Regions from separate parts of the Homo sapiens genome. Here regions 1, 2, 4 and 5 are each linked to region 3. Evidence: fine-mapped expression QTL. A gene starts in region 3. Each other region holds a variant in brackets. All regions are shown on one strand. Distances are from middle to middle.

The links.
Region 1: its variant is fine-mapped to the expression of LINC02035 in testis (GTEx, PIP 0.99).
Region 2: its variant is fine-mapped to the expression of LINC02035 in whole blood (INTERVAL, PIP 0.93).
Region 4: its variant is fine-mapped to the expression of LINC02035 in whole blood (TOPMed, PIP above 0.99).
Region 5: its variant is fine-mapped to the expression of LINC02035 in lung (TOPMed, PIP above 0.99).

The regions. Positions count from the first base shown.
Region 1 is chr3:122,749,946-122,756,024 of GRCh38, forward strand. It overlaps HSPBAP1 (HSPB1 associated protein 1), which reads right to left. Exons shown (of 8, transcript NM_024610.6): 5 at 5,315-5,486; 6 at 2,646-2,729. LOC124906363 (small nucleolar RNA U13) reads left to right here and starts at 427; the gene lies at 427-530. The variant TGGAA/T (reference allele first, on the strand shown) is at 3,252.
Region 2 is chr3:122,702,433-122,708,511 of GRCh38, forward strand. It overlaps PARP14 (poly(ADP-ribose) polymerase family member 14), which reads left to right. Exons shown (of 17, transcript NM_017554.3): 7 at 1,310-1,546; 8 at 2,095-2,316; 9 at 5,758-5,836. Among named protein-coding and RNA genes, the nearest start is that of PARP14, 25 kb to the left of the region's middle. The variant C/A (reference allele first, on the strand shown) is at 2,658.
Region 3 is chr3:122,883,653-122,889,731 of GRCh38, forward strand. It overlaps LINC02035 (long intergenic non-protein coding RNA 2035), which reads left to right and starts at 2,861. Exons shown (of 1, transcript NR_024618.1): 1 at 2,861-6,079.
Region 4 is chr3:122,792,627-122,798,705 of GRCh38, forward strand. HSPBAP1 (HSPB1 associated protein 1) reads right to left here and starts at 1,205. Exons shown (of 8, transcript NM_024610.6): 1 at 991-1,205. The coding sequence starts at 1,054. SLC49A4 (solute carrier family 49 member 4) reads left to right here and starts at 2,443. Exons shown (of 9, transcript NM_032839.3): 1 at 2,443-2,909. The coding sequence starts at 2,567. RefSeq lists a silencer at 2,280-2,769. The variant C/T (reference allele first, on the strand shown) is at 2,991.
Region 5 is chr3:122,842,392-122,848,435 of GRCh38, forward strand. It overlaps SLC49A4 (solute carrier family 49 member 4), which reads left to right. Exons shown (of 9, transcript NM_032839.3): 5 at 3,372-3,480. Among named protein-coding and RNA genes, the nearest start is that of LINC02035, 41 kb to the right of the region's middle. The variant T/G (reference allele first, on the strand shown) is at 2,362.

The DNA of each region.
Region 1 (6,079 bases), 130 kb before region 3:
GCAAACAAGTAAATATGTTACTGGTTTTCTTTCTTTTTTTTTTTTTTTGAGACAGAGACTCGCTCTGTTGCCAGGCCAGAGTGCAGTGACTTGATCTCGGCTCACTGCAACTTCTGTCTCCCTGGTTCAAGCGATTCTCCTGCCTCAGCCTCCCGAATAGCCGGGATTACAGGTGCGTGCCACTATGCCCAGCTAATTTTTGCATTTTTAGTAGAGATAGGGTTTCACCATGTTGGCCAGGATGGTCTCGATCTTTTGACCTCATGATCCACCCACCTCGGCCTCCCAAAGTGCTGGGATTACAGGCGTAAGCCACCGTGCCCGGCCTTATGTTACTGTTTTTAAGGACCCAGATTTTCAGTGTTAAGAGAAGAGATAAAAATACAGAAACAAATAAAAAATTCTATCATGTTAAACTTGAATTAGATACTTTTATAGTTCATAAGTCTGATGATTGGGTGTCATGCTCATGTGTGAGACATGCCTCCCTTAAGCCTTGTTATGACGTCAGCATATTACCTGTCTAGATATATTTTTTAAACACATGAATTAGAAATATAAATACATCAATATCTATCTATCTATCTATCTATCTATCTATCTATCTAATCTATCTATCTATCTCACATTCTAGCTACATCACTGAAAGAGCCTAGAAACACTGACACCCAGGAGCAATGAACAGATTTAGAGCTGAGATCTCAGTTTCTAAATGCCATTTCCTACAAAAAGAACTGTGGCTACCTGGAGAAATGATTGACTTCCAAGTGTGGGGCACTAAAGGAGAAAGGGTATCCTGGGATATCTTCCTGTGCCAGAAAGCCAGGATACACTCAAAGTCTAATTAACGGGGACATATCAAAAGGGCACAGGCCAGCTTGAAGTTTCACTAAAATGACAGATAAGACCCAAATTTAAAATTATCTTGTCAAGCTGGAATGCTCAACCAAACCAATATGATGAAAATTAACAGGGATGACTGTGAAATACTGGATTTAGAATTAAAATCAGCTTTATAGGTACAGGATAGGATTCAACCTGCCTGACAGCAGATCATGTGAAAAAAAATCACAGATATTTTAAAGTTGAATATGAAACTAAAGTGAGATGAGATTACTTAAAAAACTAACCCAATATTACAAGCAGCACTGGAGATATTTAGGATCGAGATCATGTGGGGTAGAAATCTTATACTCTACCAAATAAGGCCTACTGATATTCAGTTTTAGGCACTATATATTAAGAGAACTATTCTTGACATAATAGCTCTCCCTCCTCCTCATAGCAATTTCTACTTTTTAAACACTTCCCATATGCCACGCACTATATTAGATGCTTTTACAATGTGTTGTCCAATTACTCTACTGAGGTGGGTTCAATTATAATCCTCATTTTACAAGAAAATGGAGGCTTGAAGAGATTAAGTAATTATCTATGTTAGACAGCTAACAAAGGTAACCTGTATCTTAAAGTTGCCTGATTCCAAAGTCTATGGCCAGAATGGTAAAAAGTCTGGAAAAAGGAAAAAATCACCCATAAAAACACCCCATTAAAGAAAGTAAGAGGTTTTGAGCATGGAAGAAGAAAAGATTATGGAAAAACTTGGAGGTATTTTCAAATATTTTAAAAAGATGACAGCTCTACTCTTTAACAACAAGCGAACTTCCTTGGGAGGTGAAGCACCTGTCAGGGCTATTGTAGATATGACTTTGGCATTGGGAGTGGAAGTTCTCCATGGATTCTACCTTGACATCTGCTGCAACTCCAGTTCAGCATGCTATAGGCGAAATTTCTGTGACGCTACTGATCTCCTGCCATACCTCTCACTTAAGCCTCAAGGGCTACAACTCTTCACTAAGCCCACACAACATAGCTTTCTGTAACAATATTCCTTCTGTTCCACTGATTCCAAAGCCATTCCTATTAGCAAAGGATAGGAAAAACTAGACTAGGGAGAGGATACGGCTGTCAAACAGAGCAGAAAGATGCAATCCAGGCTTCAGGTCAAGGAGAGCAGAGATGCAGTCAGGGCCTCTGGTTAAAGAGAGGCAGCTGCAATTAAGGCCCCAGTTGAAGAGACAGACTTGAGCATAACAAGCAGCTATTCTAATTGTCAAATAGAGCAGGCAACCAGGATTAAGCTTAACACATCAGAGGGAAAGGCTTCTGGCAGAAATGAAATGATAAAAACCTAGCACTGAAAGAAAGACTCCGCTTTGAGAATATGTAGAAGCCAAGACAGAATTCTGCAATTAGTAATGACCCTGAACCAAGAAGCAGGTATTTCCAGCCCAGATGGTGTGAAAGAGGAGCGGCAACAAGGGACACATATCGGCAAATCTGGCCAGGCCCAATACAATTTTCCTAACAACACTGGTCAAGGGAAAGGACCCTGCATGCCAGCATCAGGCGCATTCTGTGTCCTTAAAAGAAAGAGAGTGGCACACCACTAAAATTCCAATTTCCAACCTAAACATCCATTAACAGAAGACAGAATGCATACGTTATAGTGCACTGCAACAAAAAAATACTGAAGCATTGGTTAAAAAAAATTAATTACCCAGTTGTACAGCCAGACCTTATATATCTTTTAAAAGCATGATTTGCACTTACTTAAAAAAAAAAAAAAAACAACGAAAAAGTACCAGTTCAATCCATGAGTTTATACTGACAGTGACAGGATCAATGGATTCTACGTAATGCCACCAGTGTCTGGGAACAAAGAGAACCTGAAAACCAAACAAAGAATGGTTAGCACAAGAACAGGACGTTTCATTTTTATGTCAGAATCAGACCCTAATTGAGGCTGCTAGGAAAAAAAGGAATACAAATGAATTCACAATAATATTGCTGGAGAAAAGTAAAGTAAGAAAAAAAACCCCGCAAACCTTTTTTCCTTTTATTCCTTTTTTATTGACAAGTTCACATGTTCTACAAAGGATACTGCCAGCATCTCTATTCTCTTTAATCCTGGGCCTTCTTTGTCTGCACCTAAATCTTAGTACATGATTCTGAGATTCTAATTTTTCCTCCTTTCCGTCACAAAATAGTTGCGTGCATTCTGAGAAAGGGCATAGGTAAAACACATAGGACGTGGCTTCTGTTTTCTCACAGCTCAAAATCTAGCCAATGAGAAGATAAAGTATAGAAAGGTGGCATTATAGAAGTGGTAAATCAGGGGACAATGGTGTTTCAGAATTTCAGAGGTGGGTGAAACAGGCATGAACTAGGGAGGTCAGGGGCAACATGGA[TGGAA/T]GAAGTGTGATTTGAACCCGGGCTAGGAGAGAATTTAGACACAGAAAGAATGAGGACATGCCAGGAAGGATAAGAGGTACAGGTGAGGGAGGTAGGACTACAGAAGATAGCAAGTAGGTCAGTCTTACTATCACAGAGGGAATAATGGGAGATAAGGTAGGGGAATTAGTTTAGGGACAGCGGACTTCAGAATCTAGATTTTATCTGGTAGGCACTAGGAGTTGTTGAGAAATTCTAAGTAGGGGGATGGTTAAAATAGTGGTATCGAGAGAGTCTGAGAAGGACAGGAGATACTTGCAAAGGTCCACTTATTAAACGTTAAGATATAAATAGGAAGGTATAATAAACAAAAGCAATGGGCAGAGTCAAGAAGGATGGCATCTATCCAGACTCAGTATGAGATTTCCTATTAAGAGCAGAGTAGATGGAAATGATGTGAAGCTTTTGGGCTTCACATTAGGAAACTACTGGTATTTGCTGTGAACAAGGCAGGACTGGGAAATAGAAAGAGAGATCCTTTCAGGAAAACTGGAAACTATAAAAGGCCACTTGATAGTCATTAGTAGGTTATGCATGTCCTATCAGAGTAAAGTTTCAGTAAAGTGGTGACAGAAAGAGCTGGGTTTGAGTGGATTAAAGAATGGATAGGATGTAAGGAAAACTGATACAATAGGCAAAACCAATCACTCAAATTTGGCTATTAAACACAGAAGAGAAAATGAATTGGCAACCACTTCACACTCTCTGGAATGGCTGTAAAAATAATGATAAAAAAGCAAAACAAGTGTTGGGAAAGATAAAAAGAAATTGGAACCCTCATACAATGCTGGTGGGAATGCAAAATAGTACAGCTGCTATGGAAAATAGTTTGACAACTCCTCAAAAAGTTAAACACAGGGTTACCATATAACCCAGCAATTCTACTCCTAGGTATACCCAAGAGTATTGAAAACATATGTACACACAAAACTTGTACATGAATGTTCAAAGTAGCATTACTTATAATAGCCAACAAAGCAGAAACAACCCAAATGTCCATCAACTGATGAACAGATAAACAAAATGTTGTATATCCATACAATGGAATATTATTCAGCCATAAAAAAGAAATGAAGTGCTAGTAACATTCTATGACGTGGATGACCCTTGAATACATTATGCTATGTGAAAGAAGTCAGACACAGAAGGCCCTGTATTATAATATTGCACTGTGTGAAATGTCCAGAATGGGCAAATCTAGAGATAGAAAAAGATTAGTTGTTGTCAGGGGCTGTGGGGAGAGGGGAATGCAGAGTGACTAACAGGTCGAGGCAACTCAGTCAAGTGAAATTGTTTGAGTTGATAGTACTTGAGTGAAGGAAGCAGGAAAAGAGCCAGTGAGACCGGTACAATGGATGGAAGACAGGCAAGGGAGAGGGATAATCGAGAGAATAAAATCTTCTTAAGTGACTAAGAAAACCTTTCAAATTATTAATGAAATATCAGACAGCAAGTGCCAATGTTGAAAAGGAAATTTTCCTCACTGGGAAGCAGCACTATGTACAGTACCTTTGGAAATGTTTCAGAGTTAGTAATTTATGAAAACAACATCCATTTTTGCTTAAAAGCAAACATTCTCGGTTCCTTCTGCCCGTTGGCCCACACCTGGAGGCATTCCGACCTGTGTTTATGTGTCTGGGTTCAGTGCTATCATAATTGAACAGATACTAACTGTGATTAAATGTTCCAGAGATGCTCGAGTACCCATGCCTTGAACATTTTCTCCTGACCTAAATGAAAATGACTCTTGTAGACTGTCTTCCTCCAAAGTCCATTCTCCTCTTTACCAATAGGAGGAGCTGTGTTCCCTCTTGCCATTTCCTTTCCAGGACCTGTGAAGCAGAGGTGTATGTGTCTGAAGCCTACAACTGGGGAAGCTACCTTCCAACAGCAGAGCAGAGGGAAGGAAGCCATTCTCATTTGCACTGCGCAGGGAGGGGAAGCACACAGCATAAGGACTTGAGAGAGTTACAGCTGTGGTGTCCCCTGGCAGGTCATTAATGTTTTAAAGCCCTATTACCTGTCCTGGGCTCAGTGTAACCGCATGTCTTTGAGCTTTCCGGAACTGAGGAAAACGCTTTAAATCAGGATTGACAACATTGATTTTACTGAACACACTAGATTCTTCATAAGGGATTCTAGTTGGATAAAGGAAAGGAGTATCTTCAGGAGGAAAGAGATGCCATCGTTTCCTAATTAAAAAAAAAAAAAAAAGATACAAGTTAGTACTCTGACCTTAAGACAAAACATGGAAGAAGACAAAAGCTAAGTGTTCATTTTTACTTGTTTAAATTCAATCCCTAAGGGAATATAGGCACCATCAGTGGTCACCTGTCCATCTCTGACTCAGCGCTAGAATCCCTCTGCAGATACCGGGTGGAAGGTTGTGTAGCAACTAAGGGGCTGCCTCATGGATGTCTCAGGACATCCATGAGGCAGCCTCTTACATTGCTGGGATAGAATCTAGTTCATAAGATCATTCTTTCTTATCTCAAATCAAAGTCTGCCTTCTCATAAATAGTTTTCATCCCTGACTCTAGAGCTATTCACAATAACCCCCACCCTTTCAAATATCTGTATTCTTATCTTATTCAGAGCAAACACTCATAGTTCTATCCACCAAATAGTTTCCAGACTTCTCCCTGTTTGGGTTATAAATTCCTTAAGTTAAACATTTGTTAAGTTGATCCATTAGGGAGTGGACATGCACAAATAATGCCACATAAATAAAGCAGTATAATATAGGAATTTTCAAAGAAAACTGTTAAAATGTTTGTCATTTAAA
Region 2 (6,079 bases), 180 kb before region 3:
TGGTCTTGAACTCCTGACCTCGGGTGATCCGCCTGCTTCAGCCTCCCAAAGTGCTGGGATTAGAGGCGTGAGCCATCATGTCCAGCCAGCACTGTGCTGTTTTTGACATGCATGTTCTCATTCACTGCCATGCGGCAGATTCTAGGATTATTATTATTCTCACTTTACAGATGAGGGAGTGAGACTTAAAGGGGTTAGGTAATTTGCCCACATCCCCCAACTAGCAAATGGTAGAGCCAGGATTGGAATTTGTTCAGGCTCTTAACCATTGCACTCTTTCAAAATGTTAAAAATAATGTTGTGTCTCATTTTAAAAAATTAAATAAAAACTCTTTGGACCAAGCATCAGTTATGGGAATGAATTTCATTCCTTGTCTCTTTTGACACCAAATATCAAGACATTCTTTCCCAGCTAGGCATGGTGGCTCATACCTGTAGTCCTTACTACTCGGAATGCTGAGGTGGGAGGATCACTTGAACCCTAGGAGTTTGAGGCTGCAGTGAACTATGATCATGCCACTGCCCTCCAGCCTGGGTGGACAGAGCAAGACCCTCTCTCTTAAAAAAAAAAAAAAAAACAAAAAAAAAAAACAAAAAACAAAAAACAGTCATAGTTTGCTTTCCTTTCACTCCCATAGATGCTTAGCTTCCATGGCTGTAATAACTGCTCTGCATTACTCCTTAGTGACCCAGGCAGGGCAGCTTTGAAAATCACTTGGTTACATTCCCTCTCCTCTGTTCTCTTGACCTCTCTAATCTAGCCCGATTAATCTGCTCACATTCACTGATGAAAAAGCTTCCGGGGCTGCTCCCTTTCTGTCAGGGAGTCCAGATGTCTTGGCACTCGAGGTGGGCCCCCTAGTTTACCCCCAGTGTAACATTTCTAGCCTGGAGCATACCATTTTGCTGCAGAAGCTCTCTCAGATCAAATTAATCTGTTCACAGCTCACAACCCACCATGCCTATGTTCATGCTGCTCCCTGTCTTGCTCTGCCTGCTGAAATTCTTCCCATTTCTCAAACCCCACATTGCCCATGGTATCTTCACTAGTTACTGAAACAGCTTTCTCTGGACTCCTTCAGTGATGCCATACCATTCATAGATTACTTTTTGACTGCTCTCTTTTTTTCCTAAGTGTCACTTCAATAAGTATTTAGTCACACTTTGTCTTATGTTGATATTTCAATCACTGAAACCGTAGTCATCTTAGTTGTCTCCAATTGTGCCAAGCCCAGTGCCTCAAATATAGTAATCATTGATGAATGCTTTTTGTTAAAATTTGAAACAAATTTTTGGTTTTGTCTTTAAGACCGATGTTGTTGTCAACTCCGTTCCCTTGGATCTCGTGCTTAGTAGAGGGCCTCTTTCTAAGTCCCTCTTGGAAAAAGCTGGACCAGAGCTCCAGGAGGAATTGGACACAGTTGGACAAGGGGTGGCTGTCAGCATGGGCACAGTGCTCAAAACCAGCAGCTGGAATCTGGACTGTCGCTATGTGCTTCACGTGGTAGCTCCGGAGTGGAGAAATGGTAGCACATCTTCACTCAAGGTTGGGCCTGGTTTTGAATTCTCCATGAAGTTGGGTAGCCCTTTGGGTTCTCCTTTTAGTAGCATATTAATTGGACATAGATTGGGCCTTGTCTGTTTCTCTTCCATAATAATCACTCTTTTGGCAGATTCCATCATGTGGCCATTTCTTTCAGCTGTAGCTGACTTCTCCTGAGGACTAGTTAATACTATAAATGGATTATTGTGCTCAATAATTATTGGAGCTCAGGGAAGGGTTACTGAAGATAATATTATTGCTTGCTTAGTGAAGAAAGCCAGAGGAGGGTGTGAAGAATGGAAGAGAATGAAGGAAAAGAACAGTAGTTGCTTTGCTTCTTTCCTTCATTGTGAATGTGTTTAAGTCTCTCGCATTCTCTTTTCCTTTTCCTTGCCTTCTCCTGTATTTTTCTTTCCTCTTCTGATTGCCCTTAATCAGTGTTGACAGCAAAAAGGAGTATTCAAGTTCACAAAGTTGCTAAATTCTTGTCCTTTTTGTTCTAACTCCCATTTCTAGACAAGATGTATAAGGATGTGCTTTGTGCGTTTCAGATAATGGAAGACATAATCAGAGAATGTATGGAGATCACTGAGAGCTTGTCCTTAAAATCAATTGCATTTCCAGCAATAGGAACAGGAAACTTGGGATTTCCTAAAAACATATTCGCTGAATTAATCATTTCAGAGGTGTTCAAATTTAGTAGCAAGAATCAGCTGAAAACTTTACAAGAGGTTCACTTTCTGCTGCACCCGAGTGATCATGAAAATATTCAGGTACAGTGCCACTAATTTCTGATTATTTTGGCAACTGAGACCTAGTGTTTTTTCAAATGTCTTTTTGGTCTAACAGGATACTTTTTTCATTCATTTCCCCATTCAGGAAAGTAAGAAGGTAGTTTATACTTGTAGTTGTAGTTGTAGCATGACAAATTTTAAGAAAAGTTACAGATGTAGAAAAAATTTAACTTCCTATTCAGGAAAATTTTGAACATATCCAAAAGTAGACATAATAGTATAATGCAGTCCCTTGTACCTATCACTGAACTTCAACAGTTATCAACCTATGGCCAATATGTTTCATCTCTATCTTCATCTATTTCCCTTCCTTCTATATT[C/A]TTTTGAAGCAAATCTCAGACATATCATTTTATCCATAAACAATTCAACATTTATTTTAAACAATAACAATTCTTTTTAAAAAAGTAACATAACCACAATATTGTATCACACCTAAAATAAATGGACAATAATTCCTTTAACCAATTATCAAATCAATTCTCAAATTTCTGACTATCTCATAAACGTTTTGTTTTTACAGCTTTGTGTTTGAATCAGAATCCAAATAAGGCCCACATATTGCAATGGAGTTGACTATAGGATTTCCCTCCATATGGACATAGAAATTTTAATACATAGTATAAAAGCACAGTCTGGCCTTATCAATAGGAAGATGTCAGAAGGTGTGGTTAGAATGGATTAGCACATTCCCATGTAAATAGGAGAGTTGGGACCAGAAACACCAGAACTATCATCAATCATGAGTTCATGATTCAGCTCACATCAGCTGTGGGAGAGCCACTGGACTCAGCATTATGGCAGCACAACAGGCTTTTAAGCCATTATCCCTGCACTCCGAGTCTTTACTTAATCAAATAAAGTAGATGACATTCAGTGTTTGAAAAGCTCCCAAGGTACTGCAAAAATTGATCAAACAGATTAAGATCAGCAACCCAAGAGATACCTGTGGATCATTGGACCATCTGAATTTTTAGGTAATGCTTCATTTTTCTGTGATGCTAGATACTACCTATAAGTTCTTTGGAAGCAAGTAAATCTGACCTGAATTCTGATCAGGCAGCCAAACCACCTGAGTAAAATATGTGGTCCATTTACTTGTCCCGTATAATTAGTTACTCTTCTGTGCAACAGAAGCTTTTAAAATAATTTCCCTATGACTTGCATTGTGCAAGGTGATGTGGATCGTGGAACAGGACGAATAGGAATAGCACATACTTTCCCTCCTATAAATCACAATTACTTTGGAGCTAAGATTTATATACACAAAATGAACTAAATGAGAGGCATGAAGTGCTGTTTTTGAATGCATGGGTGATTGAATACAGCATGAGTCCTGTGACACAGACCTGAACCTTCAAATATCACTCTTTTTCATGCAACCTCAGCATTCATTTTCTTTCCTGAAGACTGAGTATTTTTCAAATACTCTGTAAAAAGAATTAGTCTATACAGATGCCTTTAGTACCATTTGAAATTCTCTGTATGTGTCTGTTACACTTTTTCTCTTTAGACTTTTAAAGACAGTTAAACTTTGGTTACATTTGCACAAAAAAATCAGCAAAGCTTATCGAGATGTTTATAGATGGAGACTGTCACAGAGGATGCAAAGCAGCAGTCCTGTGATTTGAACATGGCCTCTAGATGTGCTTTATTTAGATTATTAAAAAAAAATTTCAATCAGTTGCTAACATTTAAAAATCAAAAATTTTACATAAAACTCTAGATATTCACTACAACCTAAAACTTCAAAACTTCTGGCACATTAAACATGGCTTCCTGCTTGGGACAGGAAGTTTTCCATGGCTGAGTGGCAGGTGTTCTCTAGTTCTCCATAGTCAAATCAGACCACCTTTACACATGTGCCTTACCTACCTGGCTCCTAGAAGCCTGTGAGTCTGAGATCTTTGCTCTACCCTCTCTCTGGTTCCTTCTCCCATTATTGCATCTATCTTTAGCCAAGATGTTACTTGTTTTTTTTCCAACAAAATTATCTGTTGCTTGTTTACAAGGAGGAAGAAAATGATGATTATGGAGGGTCACCAACAGGCAAAAAAAAAAAAAATGAAATTCACAGGTTTATTAACACTAGAATACATACACCAGCTACTTGCTCCAAAAATCATGACTCCTCAGCCCCTCCTCTTTTGGTACAAATAGGAAATTAAAAACGGAAGTGTTTGGGACCTTGTGATGGTCATTCTCTTAACATTGTAGTTTTTACAATTGGCAAGTTATTTGCTTTGACTGACCATTATGGTAATTCATGTTCATTGTAGAAACTTTGAACAATGCAAAATGCATAAATTCTTTAGTTGGATTTTATTCCAGCCTGCTTTTTTTTACATATGTACTTTTAAAAGTGGGATTGGCTCGGAGCGGTGGCTCATGCCTGTAATCCCAGCACCTTGGGCAGCCAAGGCAGGCAGATCACCTGAGGTCAGGAGAACAGCCTGGCTAACATGGTGAAACCCCGTCTCTACTAAAAATACAAAAATTACCTCCCAAGTAGGCTGAAGCAGGAGAATCACTTGAACCTGGGAGGCGGAGTTTGCAATGAACCAAGATTGTGCCACTACACTCCAGCCTGGGTGACAGAATGAGACTCCATCTCAAATAAATAAATAAATAAATAAATAAATAAATAAATAAAGGATTGTGATTATAAATTATTTTATTTAATATCCTTCGCTTTTATTTTCTATTTCACTAAATCTTCTTTGAGGCTGGGCACAGTGGCTCACACCTTTAATCCCTGCACTTTGGGAGGCCAAGGCAGGAGGATCACTTGAGGCCAGAAGTTCAAGACCAGCTTGAGCAACATAGGGAGATCCTGTTTCTACAAAAAACAAACAAACAAAAAAACACAAAAAACAAAAAACGTAGCTGGGTGTGGTGCCATATACTTATAGTCCCAGCTACTTGGGAGGCTGAGGTGGGAGAATTGCTTAAGCCCAGGAGGTCGAGGCTGCAGTGAACTGTGATCACGCCTCTAGCATTCCAGCCTGGGCGACACCCCAGCCTGGGCAACACAGCAAGACCTCATTTAAAAAATTCTTTGAAAATACGATTTTTAATGGCTAATAAATACTCCAACACATGGATACAGCAACATTTATTTAACTTTTTCCCTGTTGAATTTTTAACTGTTTTTTCTCTGTTATGAATAGCACTGTAGTGAATATCCTTGTATTTATCCACATCGTTGTCCACATCGTTGATATTTTCATTAGACACATTTATAGAAACAGAATCATGTGTTGTTTTTATAACTTTCAAGATCTGCAATGAAATTAAATAATACTGTTTGAGAATGGTTATCTCCCAAATATGTATGTGTGCATGCAGGACAAAACACCCTGATGATTCCAATTTATTCATTTACTGAGGAGTGTAATGATCAACGCTGTGTTTATATTTCAGGCATTTTCAGATGAATTTGCCAGAAGGGCTAATGGAAATCTCGTCAGTGACAAAATTCCGAAGGCTAAAGATACACAAGGTTCAGTAAAGCTTCTAAATTGAGAAGTGATTTCTAGTTGCTAAGTAACTGTTCATTGGCAGGTAAAAGACAGTAGTGATAATTTTTATGAAAAAAAAATCAATGAGTGACAAATGATACTAAGTTATGTTTCATATACCTGAGCATGTAAGACACTGGTCATGTTTATATAATCTGAAGCAAAAGGGAAGGCAGGCCAAGTTATGTAATCTGTATAATGGGTTTTAAGTAATGACAAGACTA
Region 3 (6,079 bases):
GTGATACAGGCAGTTACATGGCCCTCAGTCTCTCTGATTTACATTTGTTTGTGGTCAGGATTTAGATCACTTTATGATTTTCTGAGGCTCTGACTCGTCAGATACCTTTCTCAACCCTTGGATGAATCTGACCTCAGCTCTGTCCCTGAGACCTTCCACTTTCTTGAACTGACTTTCTGACACAGGCTTCTTCACCCTCAACCCCTCTCCAGGATCCCCAGCAGAAATCCATTCTCATTCCCGAATAGGAAATAAGGCCATACGCTCAGAGTTTCCTCTCCTGAACGAGACGCTAGCAAGCTCAGAACATGAGTAAGCCCAGGTGCTCCAGAAAGATTTAACAGGTCTTCTCACAGCTAAGCTTTAGAAGTTCGAGTATTTCCTTGATATGGGAATTTCAAAGGTCTCTAACAAGTTTCTATAGTTATTACTTGTTGCATTTTTAGAATATGGGCTAATTGCTTTATGTGGTCTTTTGGTTGTGCTCTAGAATCTGATATGCCTCAAACAGTAGCTTTCCATCTTAGCCCACTCTCAAAAAGAGAGAACAAAAAGCTACCCAGCCCCAGCTGTTCTGTTCATTCAACAAGGGAGAATTAAACTTTTTTTTAACCTAGCTAAAAAATGAAAGCATAGAATTGATTTCAGTAGCTTTGATGAAATAATCAAAACACATCAAGCTATTTTAACTCTAAACGTGCTTGCTGGACATAGTACATTGTAAGGCTTGGGACTCCAAAGGGGATACCAGAATATCAACCCAAACATCACAGAACTCTTCGCATTCCCTACTTTATAAATTCTTCTGATTTATAAAGACAGCTTCTGCAACCTTGAACAAAATGGCAAGGATAACTTGGAGAAACTGTCAGTTTACCTTAATGTTAGAAAATGATACTTCTTTTAAAGCACTATTTAATTTAGGCTTCATCTAATTCTAATTGGCTTTCTCATTTACCCAGAAGGATCATAGAATCAAAGAAATGATCTAATTCAGCCACCTCATTTTACAAATCAGTAGAGAACCTTTTAGGTTAAATGACACAGCCAGGTTTTAGCAGATCACTTGGCTCCTAGACCAGCATTCAATCCCTAAATGATCAATGTGTTAGCCATAAGTAATTCTTTTAAGTAATTTTTTTCATTTCTTTTAGAGTTTTGAAAATTACATGAGAAATACATGAGTGTATAACTATTATAAAATAGTACAGGAATAGAAAGTAAAGTCTACCTCCATACAAACATGCTGTTTAATCCATTCTCTCCAGAGGGTATCATCATTCATTCTTTCAGAAGAAACTTGTGTATGCATTTACATATCTATGTATAAAAACTCGGGGGGCATTTAAAATCGAGTCACCTAGGGATCTCTTTCTTGGACCATATTGGTATAAACTTTATGGGCAGAAGCAGAAGTTTCTGAGATCCTTATTTCTCTCCCAGATGAATCTGTCAGATGTAGCATATTGTGGTTAATGTAGGTGTTTCACAGACCTGCTTATGTACCATCAAGCTTTATCATATTCTAAAGTTCAAAAGTGAGTTCCAATATGCATTATTGAGTTGAGTTCCAATATGCACTATTGTGTTTTCTTACTGGAAATACAATTTCTGTTCTTAACACCATCAACTAAGCTCCCTGTACTGTGAGAAAAGAAAGTGAGTAACCGACCTATGAAATCCATATAGATTTCCTCCACAGGACTTTCTTGGCTTCCCTGTCTCTGCAGAGGCACACAATATTATAGAAAACAGAAGCCAAAAGAATAATCTTGTGCAATTTTTTTTTTTTTTTTTAGACAGGGTCTCACTTTGTCATTCAGGCTTGAGTGCCCTGGTGTGATCTCAGCCCACTGCAGCCTCAATCTTCCAGGCTCAAGCAAGCCTCCAGCCTCAGCCCCCCAAGTAGCTGGGACTACAGGTGTATACCACCATGCCAGCTAATTTTTTATATTTTTCGTAGAGATGGGGTTTCACCATGTTGCCCAGCCTGGCTTGTGCAATTTCGTTTTTTGAAAAAATAGCTAATGGAGATTCTGATAATTCTTATTGTTTCCTGGTCAACTTCTGTGTCTTTCCTAATTTTCAAGCTGTCAGTAGAAATGATGAACTGTAGCAGGCCAGAAGCTCAGCTTCATTTGGTCACTTTTTCCTTTCCTGTCTTCTTGCCCATCCAGCTTTCCCCTTTCTGATGGTGTCTTCTTATTTCTGACAATGCTTGGGAGCGAGCTGTGTGACACCCAGATTTTACGAGTTGCCAGCGGTGGAGAGGAGAGAGCCGGGCATGCAGATTCTTCATGGACCCTACTAGAGAGGACAGAGAAAAAGAGCACTGGTGTAGGAGCCCACGGGTCTGGCTCTTAACCCTGGCCTGGTGACTTCAGCTATTTGACCTTGAGCAAGTCACTTCATTTCTCCTTTAGCAACATCTCTAAAATGAGGGAGTGAGCAAAAATGTTCCCTTAGATTTCTTCTAATTCAGAAATACCAGTTGATTCTTATTTAAATATGAACATGACCAAAGCATGTGCAGTCTGTAAAGCTGGAGAGGTGCCCAGCACCTTGGTGTTTCCATTTGTGCGGTAGCCCCCCTCATGTGAGCCCTGTACGTGAACATATGAAATCTTATGCTGCATCCACATTCAATAAGAAGAAATTGCTTTTTCAGTGTCTGTGGGAGGAGATAAGCTGCAGGTGCTGTTTATTTTCCCAAAGGACTTTATATATGAAACACAGGGTTTATTAAATGTATCAAATGCAATAAGAGAAAAATCTGTCATCTGATGTTGAGATAGCATACTGGGAGCCAGGTCGGGGTACTGCATTTGCTCACCAGAATCAGATCAAACGAGATACGAGTCCTTTGGTTTGATTGGATTCATCATGAGGCAGCATGGGTTTGCACTTGTAGAAATCAAAACTGTTAGGTCAGGTAGTAAAGCCAATCCTTGAACTTACATCTTTAGTTAAGGCATCAAAGAATTGTAAGTTGCTTTGCAATGATGCCATCTCCACATGGTCAGATTCTTCCAGTAAACTGTGCAGATATTTTACAGAATAAGAGCTAAGTTTCAGCATGTCAAGGAATGATCTGTACTCAAGTGTTAGTAAACAAGGGTTTTTTTGTTTGTTTGTTTGTTTTGAGACAGTCTCTGTCATCCAGGCTGGAGTGCAGTGGCATGATCATAGCTCACTGTATCCTCAGACTACTGGGCTCAAGTGATCTTCCTGCCTCAGCCTCCTGCGTAGCTAAGACTACAAGCGCATGCCACCACCCCTGGCTAATTTTTTATTTTTTATGGAGAAGGGGTCTCACTATGTTCCCCCAAGCTGGTCTTGAACTCCTGGACTTAAGCAATCCTCCCACCTCAGCTTCCCAAAGAGTTGGGATTAAAGGCGTGAGCCCCCATGTCCGGCCAACAAGACTTCCTCGTGACTATAATGTGAGCATAATATTAATAGCTCTGAGAGAGAGAAGTGAACCAGAAGACCAACCTCAGTGTCAGGAAGTCTGGGCGTCTGTCTTCTGCATGGCTGAAGACATGGGGCTTTGGGCAAGTCATCTGTTCTCTTTGAACTTTGGCTTCCTCACTTCTGAAATAGGAGGGTCAGAGAAGATGTTTCTTTTTGCTGAAAAGTTTTACAGTTCTCTGATCTATACCCCTTGGTCACACACAACCAAAAAGTAGAAAACATGAGTGCAATACTTTTCCACCAGTACTCCCAGTTTATACATTATCTTCTCAAACCAATAAGGAACTTCTACAAGGCCCTGTTAGTGATGTGTTACAGGTGCCAGCATTAGGGAAACTTTCAGACTGTTATATCTATTCGTTCCTTCATCCATGTATACTATTCATTCTGTATGCAGAGTAATTTATATATGTACAATTACATGGCAGTGAAAGATAATCAGAAAAATGAAGTTTTTTTTTTTTTTTTGAGATAGTTTTGAGACAGAGTCTTGCTCTGTTTCCCAGGCTGGAGTGCAGTGGTGTGATCTTGGCTCACTGCAACCTCCGCCTCCCGGGTTCAAGGGATTCTCGTGCCTCATCCTCCCGAGTAGCTGGGACTACAGACATGCGCCACCATACCCAGCTAATTTTTGTATTTTTAGTAGAGATGGGGTTTTGCCATGTTGGCCAGGCCATTCTCGAACTCCTGGCCTCAAGCGATCCTCCTGCCGGCTTCCCAAAGTACCGGGATTCCAGGCATGAGCCACCATGCCCAGTCAGAAGGTTTTTTTTTAAAAAACACACTCCTGAACTAACAATTACAAAGAGCTAGTGACAATTTCCCAAATAATTATGCATAACAGGAGCCCATATATTGTTCTCAAATCATAAACCATAACTGATTTTGAGGAAAAGACATTCTGTCCCACTGATATTCTTTTCATGAGTAAGATCTGGATCTGTCTGGAGGCACAGAATTAATTTTTGCATGAGGAATCCCAACCCTACCATCATTCCATGGCTGAGGAATTGGTTATTACTCCTATGGGAAATTGGGAATGTTGTTGGTACCCCAGCCTTCTCTTAAGACAAAATTTAACAAATGCATACATGCTAAGATGCTTATACTCATAAGGCTTTGTGGGTCTCCTTTCTAAGGGGAATTTGAATACTAACAAGAACAAAGGCTAAATACCAAAAGGGGGCTTTCTAATGGTAGAATTTGGGATATCAGGTAGCCACATAGAGCAGGGCTACTTTGGGGGCTGGAGACTGCAGAAACCCTTCAGTTTATACGTGTGAGTAAACCTAATCACACTTGATGTATTGCTAGTGAAGTCCCAGCCCCCTGAGCCTTTGCAGAAACCCAAAGAATGCTAAAAAGGGCAGGTTTTAGTTCCTGCCAATTATTTCATTTACTACAAATGCCCCGAGTTCCGAATTTACTTCCCTCCCCACCAGAAATATGTCATTTTGGAGGCTTGTGAAAATTAAGCATTAAGAAAATCCCGCCTCCATCCTAATACACTGCATCCACAAGTCCCAAACAAAATCACTTCCTTGGCCTACACACATAACTACCTGTTTCTGTTTAGGTCTGTGACTCAGAAAGTGCCTGGAAGAAGTCATGAGAGGGAGTCGATCCCATCTTACCTGCCATAGGAAGAATAGGGCCTGCTCAGTAGAGTTCAGTGTGTGTGTTGAAGGTGGTGGTTCTTAGTCCTTCCCTGAATTCACTAATTCGCATTGCACTCACTCTTCCTGATCAATGAGTTATTGCTGAGAAATCATTGTAGTAAGTAATACAGGTATCCCCAGTAAAGCCATCCCTCTCCTCCATACCTCCGCTGTCCCTTGGGTTTTGGCTCCAGGATCCTTGCCCCATGTCCCAAAGAATCCCTACCTTGGGCCTCCCTCCTCCTCTTTTGTCAATTGCACTTGACCTTTTCAGGAAAAAGAAATCAATTGATACCTTAGTCCTAATGTTTGACCCTTTTCTATCTCAGAATAGAGAAGTCCCTGTATTTGTTCTTTTTTTACTCAAGTTTAATATAGACCACCTAGGCACAGAAGCTCCGTGCTATATTCTGTTGCCTGTAATTGTCCTTCCATCTAATTGGGAAAAGGTTACTCTATTGAACCATCTGCTGATTCCCTTACCTTTTCACTCTTTTGTCAGTATTCCTTTACCAGTAAATTCTTGGTTATCTAGGTCCTGAAGTTTCATTCATGTTTTTTTTAAAAGCTTTAATTTTTCTTAGGAAAACTGTTTCTCTCATCTTAAAGCAGACTATGATCTTTTCTACTTTGTTATACAATCTGAACATAATGAACACTCTAAAGTCAGGCATGGATTTTATCATAAAAGCAGATCGTATTAAGATTTTTTTAAAAAAGAACCAGGATTGAGGAATCTGTAGCTAATAATTTAATAATTCACCAGCATGTTTTGGGCTCCCACTTCATGCTGGCCACTGGGCTAGGCACTGAGGGTGCAGAAGCAAACAAATCAGCCTCCTGGCCCTCAGATTTGCATTCCAGTGAGTCCATTCATAAAACCTAACTCAAAGCCAGCAACACCCCCAAAAGGGCTGTTGGAAGCTTTGTAGCTCATCTGTACAGCT
Region 4 (6,079 bases), 91 kb before region 3:
CAATCAGAAAGGCCCACCTCAGCGGATCACAAGGTCAAGAGAGCGAGACCATCCTGGCCAACATGGTGAAACCCCGTCTCTACTAAAAATACAAAAATTAGCTGGGCGTGGTGGCACGCTTGTAGTCCCAGCTGCTTGGGACGCTGAGGCAGAAGAATTGCTTGAACCTGGGAGGTGGAGGTTGCAGTGAGCCAAAATCGCGCCACTGCACTCCAGCCTGGTGACAGAGCGAGACTCCGTCTCAAAAAAAGAAAAAAAAAAAAAGAGAGAAAAGAAAAAGAAAGGCCGACCTCAAACTATTCGCTCCTTGAAGCATTTATGTTCTCCCCACTGAGATCCCTCCTCCTAACAACCCTCACAGAGTGTACTACTGGTAGAATAGTTCAGGTGACCACATAGTAAGTCATTCTTTTTCCTTTCTAGGCTCCTTTGGAAAAGGTATTGTTATAAATATTCAAAAGTCTCTGGATCCTGCGACAGTATTCAGAACACAGCCCTGCACGGTGCAATCATTCAATAAATAATAACAGGGATCTCAGGCTCATGGGCCTCCAAACCTCATCCCCACTTGCTAAACCAGGGTTCACTGAAATAGAATAAAAGCGCATAATCCCTGTTCACAAAAGTCTCAGATAACTTCCATTAATCTCAAAGGTTGCCTTCAATTTCACAAATTTAATTTTAATCCCCTCTAAACGTTCAAAACACCTCTATTTAGCTAATGATGGGCAAATATAAAACAAAACAAAACAAAAATAACACCCCATGCGTGAAACAGCACTCGTAGGCTACCCTACGACGATCAAAAATCTGGATGCCACAATTCGAGAAATGCCACGCTCACTAGAAAATATAGATTTTTCTTCATAGTCTAATGCAAGGCCAGAGAGACCTGGGTTGGGGCTAAGGCAAACGGCCCCACGAGGGGTGCCACGAGAGTCAACTGGCATTGGGTTTGTACTCAGGGTCGGACCTCAGCCTGGCACCTACCTTCCTCCCCTCCAGCCCCAGCCGCAACGATCACAGGAGTGGTCGCCTCGGAGCCTGCTGCCATGGCTACCGCAAGGCGGGTTCTGCCGGAACCCAAGGCGGAGCGGAGCTGGGGTGGGGTCAGAGTAGGGGCCAAACTCCGAGACCCGAAGCTGCACCACAGGAAGGAGCCCCGGCGACTCCCGCCCGGCTCCTACGGAAACGCCGGCTCTCACGTGGAGGTCACGTGACGGATGCTGGGCGGGACCACGCAGCTTTGTTTTGATACCCCGGGTGTGGAAATACAAACACGTGGTCTGAGTTGTGGCGCTTTTTACCTAACCCGGACCTTAGCGTTCTTTATTGTAGTCTTAGCTTCGTTTCTGTTTCTCCTTTTCTAGTCAGATCCTTCCTTTCCACCTCGGCTTTTCTCCACCCTAAAGGATTGGAGTTTTAGGGGAAGGTTTGCCGCTTAGTGGGGCTCCGGCGGTGGGATGGGTCTCTGCCGTGAGCTTTCGCGAGCCGCTCTTGGCAGCCTGGAATGCGAGGCTAGCTCACGCTTCTCTTACACCTCTCTTGCCCTTCTGGTGGTAACCTGACTCCTTCTGATTTTAGTGGCTGCCGGGAAATACGAACCTCGGGCAAAGAATCCTGTGATTGCGTTCCCTGTGACTCATTTCCCGATCCAGACAAGCCAAATTGCTTGACTTTAGGTTTTCAAGGACACTAATCCACAGCTGTCAGGCTTCTGAATTTGTATACCAAAATAAACAAACAGCTGTGTGAAGAGATCAACAACCACCTTTCTTCTCGTTTACCCTGTGGTCAAATCATAATCACTGGAGATGGATCTTTGGGGCAAAAATCTTCCAACTTTACTGGACATACCTTTATTGCTCGCCTATTGGCAGGCGAAATGGGTAAAGTTTACATATATATGAATGAAATTGGCTAGTTTGGAATCTCCTCTTTGGATATGTAAGACAAAAAAGTAACAAAAATAGGTAGTACTTATTGCACGTAAGAAATGATTTTTATGAGATAATCCCCTGGGACCAACTACGCTTAAACTTTATCCTTCGCCTATAATTTCTGAAGTTACTAACTCAACAAAAATGAGAATAAGCCCAAAATAGAAGCAAGCATCAGGTTAACTGACGTCACTTAACAGGTCACTGAGTTGTTTATTAGGCACAAGATTTAACTTGGACACTTCCTCCAAACACCCCAGGGTTCCTTGCCCAACCTCCTCGAATACAGCCTCTCTGGGAGTTTCCCTCTCCCCGACTCAGCCGCGCTGGTCCCTGCCTTTTCAGCGCTACCTGCCCTCCGTCTGGGACCTGGCTCCTTTCCTCTCGCCGGTGTTTCCTCGCCACCCGCGGAGGGGAGGGCGGACCCCAGCCTCCTTGCCGCCTGCCCCGCCTCCCCGCCTCCCCGCCGGCCCGGCTCGGGCCGCGCAGGCGCACCAGGCGCGGTCCGGAGGCCGAGGGCGACCACAGCAGCCTCCGCCTCCTGCTGCTCAGGACTATTCTGCGCTGGGCTAGTCGGCGGTGACCCGGACTGCGCCCGGCAGTGGCTTCGCGGGCGACGCGTCGCCATGGGCTCTCGCTGGAGCAGCGAAGAGGAGAGGCAGCCGCTGCTGGGGCCCGGGCTCGGGCCTGGGCTGGGGGCCTCCTGGAGAAGCCGGGAGGCGGCGGCGGCGGCGCTGCCCGCGGCGGTCCCGGGTCCCGGGCGGGTATACGGGCGCCGCTGGCTGGTGCTGCTGCTCTTCTCGCTGCTGGCGTTCGTTCAGGGCCTGGTCTGGAACACCTGGGGTCCCATCCAGAACTCGGCGCGCCAGGCCTACGGCTTCTCCAGCTGGGACATCGCGCTGCTCGTGCTGTGGGGGCCCATCGGCTTCCTGCCCTGCTTCGCGTTCATGTGGCTCCTGGACAAGAGAGGTGAGGGGTCGCGGAGCGCCAGCCCGCGCTGTCTCTCCTCCGGGAGCAGGCGCCTGCCCGCGCTCCAGGCCTGCCAGCCGC[C/T]TCCCTTGGCCCCGGCATAGGGGTTGTGTGAGGTGATAGAGTGTTGCTAGCATTCCATTTCTGACTTAGGAACCCTCCGTCCCCAAAGCGACAAATATGGAAAGGCAACCTTGCAAATATTTATGTTTTTTATCAAGGCCCTTTATGCAACACCAGGGATTTAAGCGATCTCTAAACGTTCAAGTTTTTACACATTGTGAACATCAGAGCATCCCCGTGCACGTGCGGTGTATGTGTTTTACACCTGACAAAAATGACTGATGCTTTGACTTCAAAGGGATATGGGGATGTTGAGGATGAAAGGTCGGAAAATAGATTGACGGTGCCCATATGTAAGGAAATAATGAGTTCGTTTTGTGTAATAGATGACTCCAGCCCAGGAAGAGCTATTGGGAAACTCAGATCTGACACTTTGGTTTCTGGAAGGTGGTGCTCGGCAGCTTTAAAATGTGTGTATGTGACTAGATGGCTTTCTCAGTTGAGATTTGTGACTTTCAATTAAAGCTTGCAGATGAGTGAAGATGCTTGCTTAGAATGGTACCCTGGACATCTCACTTTACCACTTGCCAGTGTGATTCTCTGAGAAGAAAAAGCCATAGGGCTGAGAATCAAGGCATACTTACCACATAAGTATGGATAAATGATTAGTAGTGACAGTCTACCCTCAAGAGGCTGTTGTGCAAGATTTTATATTTATTAATTGAATAATGCCTGGGAGCTACTTTGTACAGTTTCTGTTCAACCTTTTATAAGTTTTGTTGCAATGAGTTCTTTAGTCAGATTTGGAAGGTTGTCTTAGTCCACTGGAGCTGCTATAACAAAATACCATAAACTGGGTAGTTCATAAACACAGAAATTTATTTCTCACAGTTCTGGAGGCTGGGAAGTCCAAGATGAAGGCTCAGGCAGAATCGGTGTCGGGTGAGGGCCTGCTTCCTACACAGTGGTCTCTTCACTATAACATAAGATGGAAGAAGGGGTTAGGGAATCCCTCTGAGGTCTGTTTTATACGGGCAGTAATCCTATTCACATGGGTTCCACCCTCATAACCTAATCACCTTCCAAAGGCTGCACCTTCTTATTCCATCATTTTGAGGGTTAAGATTTCAAAATGTGAATTTGAGGCCTGGCGCAGTGGCTCAAGTAATCCCAGCACGTTGGGAGGCTGGGGTGGGAGGATTGCTTGAGCTCAGGAGGTCGAAGCTGGAGTGAGCTGTGATGGCACCACTGCACTCTGCCCTGGTCAACAGGGCAAGACTCGTCTCAGAAAAATTAATACATAAACAAAATATGAATTTGAGGGGAACACATTCAGACCTCAGCAAAAGTCAAGTGTAGGTAGGTATAGAATTGCAATTGTCTGGCATGTAGTTAGCACTCAAAATTAGTTGGTTATTAAGAGAATAGAATAGCAGGGTGATGTTAGTAGTTATACTTCCTTCTCTCCTCCTTCACTGGAATTCCTTCATTGGAATCCATGTGAAAAAGACTAAGGAATAGTTGATTGTGAATTCCTTAATGATCAACAATATAATGTAGCTGCTAAAAAAGAAAGGACAGTTTAGGCATAGAAACATAGTGTCCAAAACAAGAAGCAAAATAGTTTGATAGGCTCTACATTAGTGTTTAGTTCTGAGCTTGATTCTGAGAAGGCCATTTGACAAACTGCAGAACTTTAAAGGTTCTGCGACAAGAATGATAAAGGGTATAAAAATCATGATGTGTAAAATGAAGGGAACTTGTGTGTATCACACTTCAAAAAGAAACTTGAGGCAAGATATAGACTATGTGAAGATCAAGTCAAAGAGGAATTCGACTTATGTGTTGTTCTAGGAGGAAGAACTAGACTGAGTCAAGTTACAAAGAAATGTAACTCAAAGCAATACAAGGAAGAACCTTCTAACAAAGATACCCAGCCCTGAATGGGTGTGTCTTGACTGCTGTAGAACTTCCAGCTAGAGCAAATACTTTTGCAGAGGATGTGTGCTAGATGCCGAAGAAGGGCTTCTCCTACCAAAGGGAGATTTTCTTTGGGTTATTGTTGTTTGCTTTTAAACTAAATATTGATTTTCTCTGGGTTTCTGCTGGGCTCAGTGGCTCATGTTTGTAATCTCAGCACTTTGGGAGGCTGAGGCGGGTGGGTCACTTGAGCCCAGGAGTTAGAGACCAGCCTGGGCAACATGGTGAAACTCCAAATCTACAAAAAATACAAAAATTAGCCAGACATGTTGGCATGCGCCTGTAGTCTTAGTTACTGGGGAGGCTGAGGCTGGAGGATCAGTTGAGCCCAGGAAGTAGAGGCTGCAGTGAGCTATGATTGCTCCACTGCACTCCAGCCTCAGTGACAGAATGAGACCCTGTCTCAAAACAAACAAACAAACAAACCCAAAGTAGTACTTTACCTATAATCAATGTTACAATAATATTTTTTTAAAAAGAAAAAAGATTGTATTTGTTTCCACTGATGTATTTTTCTTCTGTTCCAGGATTCGGTCTAGGGTCCTCTGTTACATTTAGTTGTAATTTCTCTTTAGTTTCCTCCAATCTGTGATAATTCCTTGGTCATTCCCTTAACAAGGTTGGCTAAATTCAGGGGAAAATGCTGTGTTATAGTTTCTTTTTATTTTTATCAGGAGCATTTTTCAATATTATTCCCCAAATTTAGCCAACCTTGTTTTTTATGGTAGAAAAATGTTAATTTGCACCCTTCTTATTATAATTGTACCTACTATCCATGGCAGGATAAATTAGAAACTACCCATTCACTTTATAAAATAAGGTACTTTAGTTCTTCAGTAGTTCTTGTGACTATATGGTGAATTCAATTTTATATTTTCCTTTGGTTGAAGCAATAAAAAATACATTTAAAAATTCTCTTTATTAGGAAGTAGTTTTCATTTTTAGTAGAAGAAAGCAAATACACTTTTATATGTTGGCTTTCCTGCTACAGGTGTTCCATCTACGCACGTAGAAAGCAGGTTCTTTCTTGCTTCTGGCATCCTTGGGTACTAAAATATCTTTTTTTTTTTTTTTTTTTTTTTTTTTTGAGACAGAGTCTCACTTGGTCACTCAGGCTGGAGTACAGTTGT
Region 5 (6,044 bases), 41 kb before region 3:
AGGAGAATGGCGTGAACCCGGGAGGCGGAGCTTGCAGTGAGCCGAGATCGCGCCACTGCACTCCAGCCTGGGCGACAGAGCGAGACTCCGTCTCAAAAAAAAAAAAAAAAAAAAAAAAAAAGATTGCAGATGTTAGATAGCAATAGAGAAGGGTAGACAGGTAGATTGGGGTCATATTATGACGTACTAATAATTTTGGACTATTCTGTAGGAAATCGTGAGTCACTGAAGGATTTTAAGCCAAGAAGTTATGTACAGGATTGTTCTGACAAGGAAAAACAGTTAACTTAAAATTGTCCCCCCAACCCCTTTGACTTGTGTTTACTTCTAATTACCCTAGAGTCAAACTCTTCATTCTGTTTAAACCGTAAAGTGTAAGATCTTCCTTCTCTATAAAGAGTCCTTTTCACCAGTACCTAACATTCCTTTGTCTTTTATTGCTTACTCTGCATGAATGCCAGCTTCTACCTTTGGGCTCTCCAGGGGAGTTCTGTGGGCCTGCCATGCCCCATTCCCTTCCTACCAGTGTAATTACCCCCAGTCTCTCATAGAATTCCTGAAATCATTGCTTTCTGAGTTAATCAGATTATTTGCCAGCACGTAAACACATTTACTCATCTACTTTTTTTACGTTTATATTTCCTTCTCCCATTTCCCTCCCCCAACCCAGGCCACCTCTCAGATGCCTTTAATGTGTATCTCTTTGTCTCTGTGCTTTTGCAGTATGTGTACTGTTTTGTATGCATCTATGTTTAATTCATCTAAATTATGCCATATTGTGCATATCATTCTGTTTGACATTTTTCACTAAGCACTACATGGTTTATTTTTTTTTAACTTTTCATTTGGGAATGTTACAATAATATACAAAGGTAGAATAGTATAACCCCATAAGTCGGTATCAACAATTGTCAGTGAGTTTACAACCAGTCTCGTTTTATCTTTGTACCACCCACTTCCCACTTCCCACCTTCCTGCATCATGAAACAAATCCCAGATGACAACTCCATTTCATCCAGAAATATTTCAATATGTGCAATATATGTCAAAAATAGACTCTTTTTAACATATAGTGCCGTTATTTTAACTAAAAACTTTTAAATAATAATTTGCTAATATCAAATCAGTGTTTAAATTTTCAATTATCTCATAAACATTTAACAGTTTGTTTGAACAGTTTCCACATTAGGGCCACACATTGCAATTGGTCCAAAGTGCCTTAGAATCTATAGGTTTCCTTAACATGGCTCTTTGTTTCTTATAATTTAATTGTTGAGGAGCCAGCACTTTTATTCCCAACATCTGGATTTTGTTGATTTCCTCATTGTATAGTTTGACATGTTCCCCTCTCCTTTATGGTTCTTGTAAAGTATGTTGTGATTCAGGTTTTAGTTTTGCTTTTGTTTTTGTTTTACAAGACCGCTTCGTAAGTGATGCTGCTTCCTTTCATCAGGAGGCGTATAATATCTGGACAACTCTCATTTTGTGATGTTAGCACTCTGTTTCAAGATGCACCCCTGCTGCTGTGTGTACACCTAGTTCTTTGTACTCCATGGTATTAATCTATCACATTTCATCTACTCATTCTCATTGTGTACCCAGATTGCCTCCAATTTATTGTTACCATAAACACTACTGCAGTGACATCCTCATGCACGTCACCATAGACCTGAAAATTTCTTTGGAAAACAGACCCTGTAACATGATTGCTAGGTCATAAAATAGTCTAAGCTTAATTTGTCAAGTACTGCCAGATTGTAGTGATGTGATCATAGCACACAGTAACCACCTGCCTCAGCCTTGCAATTAACTGGGATTACAGGTGCACACCACTATACCTGGCTAATTTTTATATATTTTTTATAGAGGTGAGGTCTCACTATCTTGCTCAGGCTGATCTTGAACTCCTGGCCTCAAGTTATTCTCCTACCTTGGTCTCCCAAAGTGCTGAGATTACAGGCATGAGCCACCATACCTGGCCAGAGCTTTTTTTAAACTACCTACTCATTTGATGAAATAATATTGGTTATCTGTATAATAAACATTGAGAATTTTAAACAATATGAACAAAATATTATTCTTATAAAAATAAAAAATTTCAAGAAGCGAGCCAGGTGCAATGTCTCACGCCTGTAATCCCAGCACTTTGGGAGGCCAAGGTGGGTGGATCATCTGAGGTCAGGAGTTCGAGGCCAGCCTGGCCAACATGGCGAAACCCTATCTCTACTAAAAATACAAAAATTAGCTGGGTGTGCTGGCAGGTGCCTGTAATTCCAGCTCTTTGGGAGGCTGAGGCAGGAGAAGCACTTGAACCCGGGAAGCGGAGGTTGCAGTGAGCAGAGATCACACCATTGCACTCCA[T/G]CCTGGGCTACAAGAGTGGAACTCCATCTTCAAAAAAAAAAAAAATTTCAAGAAGCTTGAATTTATTAACTGACAGATTTTTTTCTTTTATAAAGCTTGCCACTTTGAGCTTCTTGAAGAATATATATATATATATACCTGTACATACACATATTGTACATATATGTGTATATATAGTTATTCATATGTGTATATGTGTGTATATATACATATATATTTTTTAACTTTTAGGCTCAGGGTACGTGTGCAGATTTGTTACATGGGTAAATTCCATGTCATGGGGGTTTGGTGTACAGATTGTTTTGTCACCCAGATAATAAGCATAGTATCCAATAGGTAGTTTTTCTGTCCTCACCCTCCTCCCACCCTGCACCCTCAAGTTGGTCCCAGTGTCTGTTTTTCCCTTCTTTGTGTCCATATGTACTTGATGTTTAGCTCCCACTGATAAGTGAGAACATGTGGTATTTGCTTTTCTGTTCCTGTGTTAGTTTTCTTAGGATAATGGCCTCCTGCTCCATCCGTGTTGCTGCAAAGGTTGTGATCTTGTTCTTTTTTATGTCTGTGGAGTATTCCATAGTGTATTTGTACCACATTTTCTTTATCCAGTCTACCATTTATGGCCATTTAGGTTGATTCCACATCTTTGCTATTGTGAATAGTGCTGCAGTGAATACACTCGTGCATGTGTTTTTATAGTGGAGTGATTTACCCAATAATGGATTGCTGGGTCAAATGGTAATTCTCTTTTAAGTTCTTTTAGAAATTGCCAAACTGCCTTCCATGGTGGCTGAACCAATTTACACTTCAACCAGCAGTATATATGCGTTTCCTTTTCTCTGCTACCTTTCCAGCACGTTTTTTTTTTTTTTTTTTTTTGAGTTTTTAATGCCATTCTGCAGATATTTTCTGATTCTGGTGTTCCAGTTTCCAAATGACATACATTTTTCATGACTAAGTTTATTCTAGATTTTTAATTTGTTACAATGTTTCCTTTTATTTCTCATTCACAGCAATTTTCGATTTTTGATGATTGCTTTAGCATATGCCATACCACTTGGTGTATTTGCTGGCTGGTCTGGAGTTCTGGACTTAATTTTAACACCAGCGCATGTCAGCCAAGTAAGTATTTTATTTCTTTATATGTTGTAGGTATTTTTGTTCATTTAATTTATAAATACTGGTTACGTGTTCTTGGTTTTAGCTTCAAGGACTGGGTAAAACATCGTCCTATACCATTGTTGCAAAAGCAAGATCTTTATGGAATAGGTAAAAAATAATGTTGATTTTCCTCCTTGATTTTGACAATAGTTGTGAATTTCACATTTCTGTGGGCATTATTAATGATACTACTGGTTTTTTAAAAAAGGAAGGAAGTCTTAGTTTTGTTGACCCCATTCTTTATCCTTGCTTCGTACCTTATAAAGAAGATTAAGATCCCATCATCAAATATATAGCTATTTCTTCATCTAGTTTCTGACTTTCTCTCTGGGCTCCAAATAAGGGTATTTCATTTCTTTAAAAATAAACATTTCACCTATATGCTTGATGTCATCCATTCCTTCTCTTTGCTTCCAGATAGCATGGTAGAAAGGAGGAGAGAGAAATTTTGAGAGGTAAATAGAAGAGAACACACTGCTGTGATATTCTATTGTATGAGTAAAAAAAAAAAAATTTGTCTATTCTGCTTTTGGTGAACATTTGGATTGGATTGTTAACCAGTTTTGACAGCCACAAACAATGCTGTATTAACACTCTCTTACATGTCTCTATGCACCTCTATACACATTTCTACTGGATACATATCTAGGAATGGAACTGCTGCGTATAGTATATGCTACTTTGGTAGATGATGCCAAACTTCTCCAAAGTGGTGGTATCCATGTGTAATCCTACCAGCAAAAATTTCTCATCATCCCACATCATTTGCCACTTGTGTGATAATATTAGTCTTTTTCACTTTAGACATGCTGATAGCTGTGCAGTTGTATGCCATCATAGTGACTTCTGTGGTGTCTTTTCAGTGTGAATTGGATATTTTGAATATCTTTTTCTTGTGACATACTAGTTTGAGTCTCTTGCCCACTATTGGGCTGCCTTTTTCTTACCGATACGTAAAGAAGAGGGCTGTGCAGAAGAGGGCTCCCCAGAGGACTTTGGGGGACTCCAGTAATCTTTGGCTGAGAAATGGGCTGCACATATAAAGGGCAAAACTACTGGAGGCTTAACAGAGAGAGTGGTATGGGTTGAAAGCAGAACAAAGATAGAAGACGTCAAGATTGTCTTGGAGTTCTGGCCCAGCCAGAATGGTAACACCTCATTCACACTTGTTAACCAGAATAGCCAAACTGTAGAATCAAGGACCATGCCCTAGGTAGAGGAAGCCTTACTCTAGTGTAGACCCATTATAAACAAAGACAAAAATCTGAAGAGGAGAGAGTTTGGAGATCTATCCTTATAAAGTACAAAATGAGGCCTACACATGCTCAAGGTGATCAACTAGTAATTGAACTGCCTACTAGAACAAAAGCCAGCCATCTTAGAAAAGATAAAAGAATCTAGAATCTCTTTATTGTGTCATCCACAACATACAGTGTACAATTTTTTTTTTTTTTTTTGATGGAGTCTCGCTCTGTCGCCCAGGCTGGAGTGCAGTGGCGCGATCTCAGCTCACTGCAAGCTCTGACTCCCGGGTTCACGCCATTCTTCTGCCTCAGCCTCCCGAGTAGCTGGGACTGCAGGTGCCTCCCACACCCGGCTAATTTTTTTGTATTTTTAGTAGAGACGGGGTTTCACCATGTTAGCCAGGATGGTCTCAATCTCCTGACCTCGTGATCCGCCCACCTAAGCCTCCCAAAGTGCTGGGATTACAGGCGTGAGCCACCATGCCTGGCCCAGTATACAATTTAAAAAAAAGTGCATTAAACATGTAAAGAAACAGGAAAGTATGACCCCTATTTGGCTGGGTGTGGTGGTCTCAAATATAGATACATAAAATTAAAAAAATTAAAAAAGCAATCATTAGAAACCAACTCTTAGATACTCTAGATGTTGGATTTAGCAGACTGAGGCTATAATGCAGAAAAGAGAAAGATAAATCTTTGCTTGCTCCAAGTTCATAAATATGTTATCTTGTACAACTGTGTCATCCTGTATAGTAGCTACTAGCCACATTCAAAATAAACTTCAAACTTAATTGATATTTAAACCAATTGAAATGAAATAAAAGTAAAAAATCACTTCCTTAGTTGCAGTAGCACTTTTCAAGTGCGGGATAGCCACATGAGACTAGCAGCTACCATGTTGCACGGTGTAGATAGAGAGCATTTCTATCATCAAAGAAAGTTCTGTTGGACAGTGCTGTTCTGGAGCTCTGTTCTTTTACCTGTCACATTTACCTAGAATTTAAACCTAGAATTGATTTTATATTTATTATAGGCGTTAAGTTTCTTTTTTCCCCATAGATATTTGTTAACCTAATATCAGTGTTTGAAAAGATCATTTTTTTTCTTCACTGCCCTCTATTCATCTTTGTTGTAAGCAAGTCTCCTTATATACACTGGTGTATTTCTAGACTTTATTCCTTTAGTCTGTTTGTCTGTCCCTGCACCAATACCAAATTGTGTTATTTATACTAGTGTTATAAATAAGTACTAGTTTTGATATTTAGTAAATTTCTCCCTTTA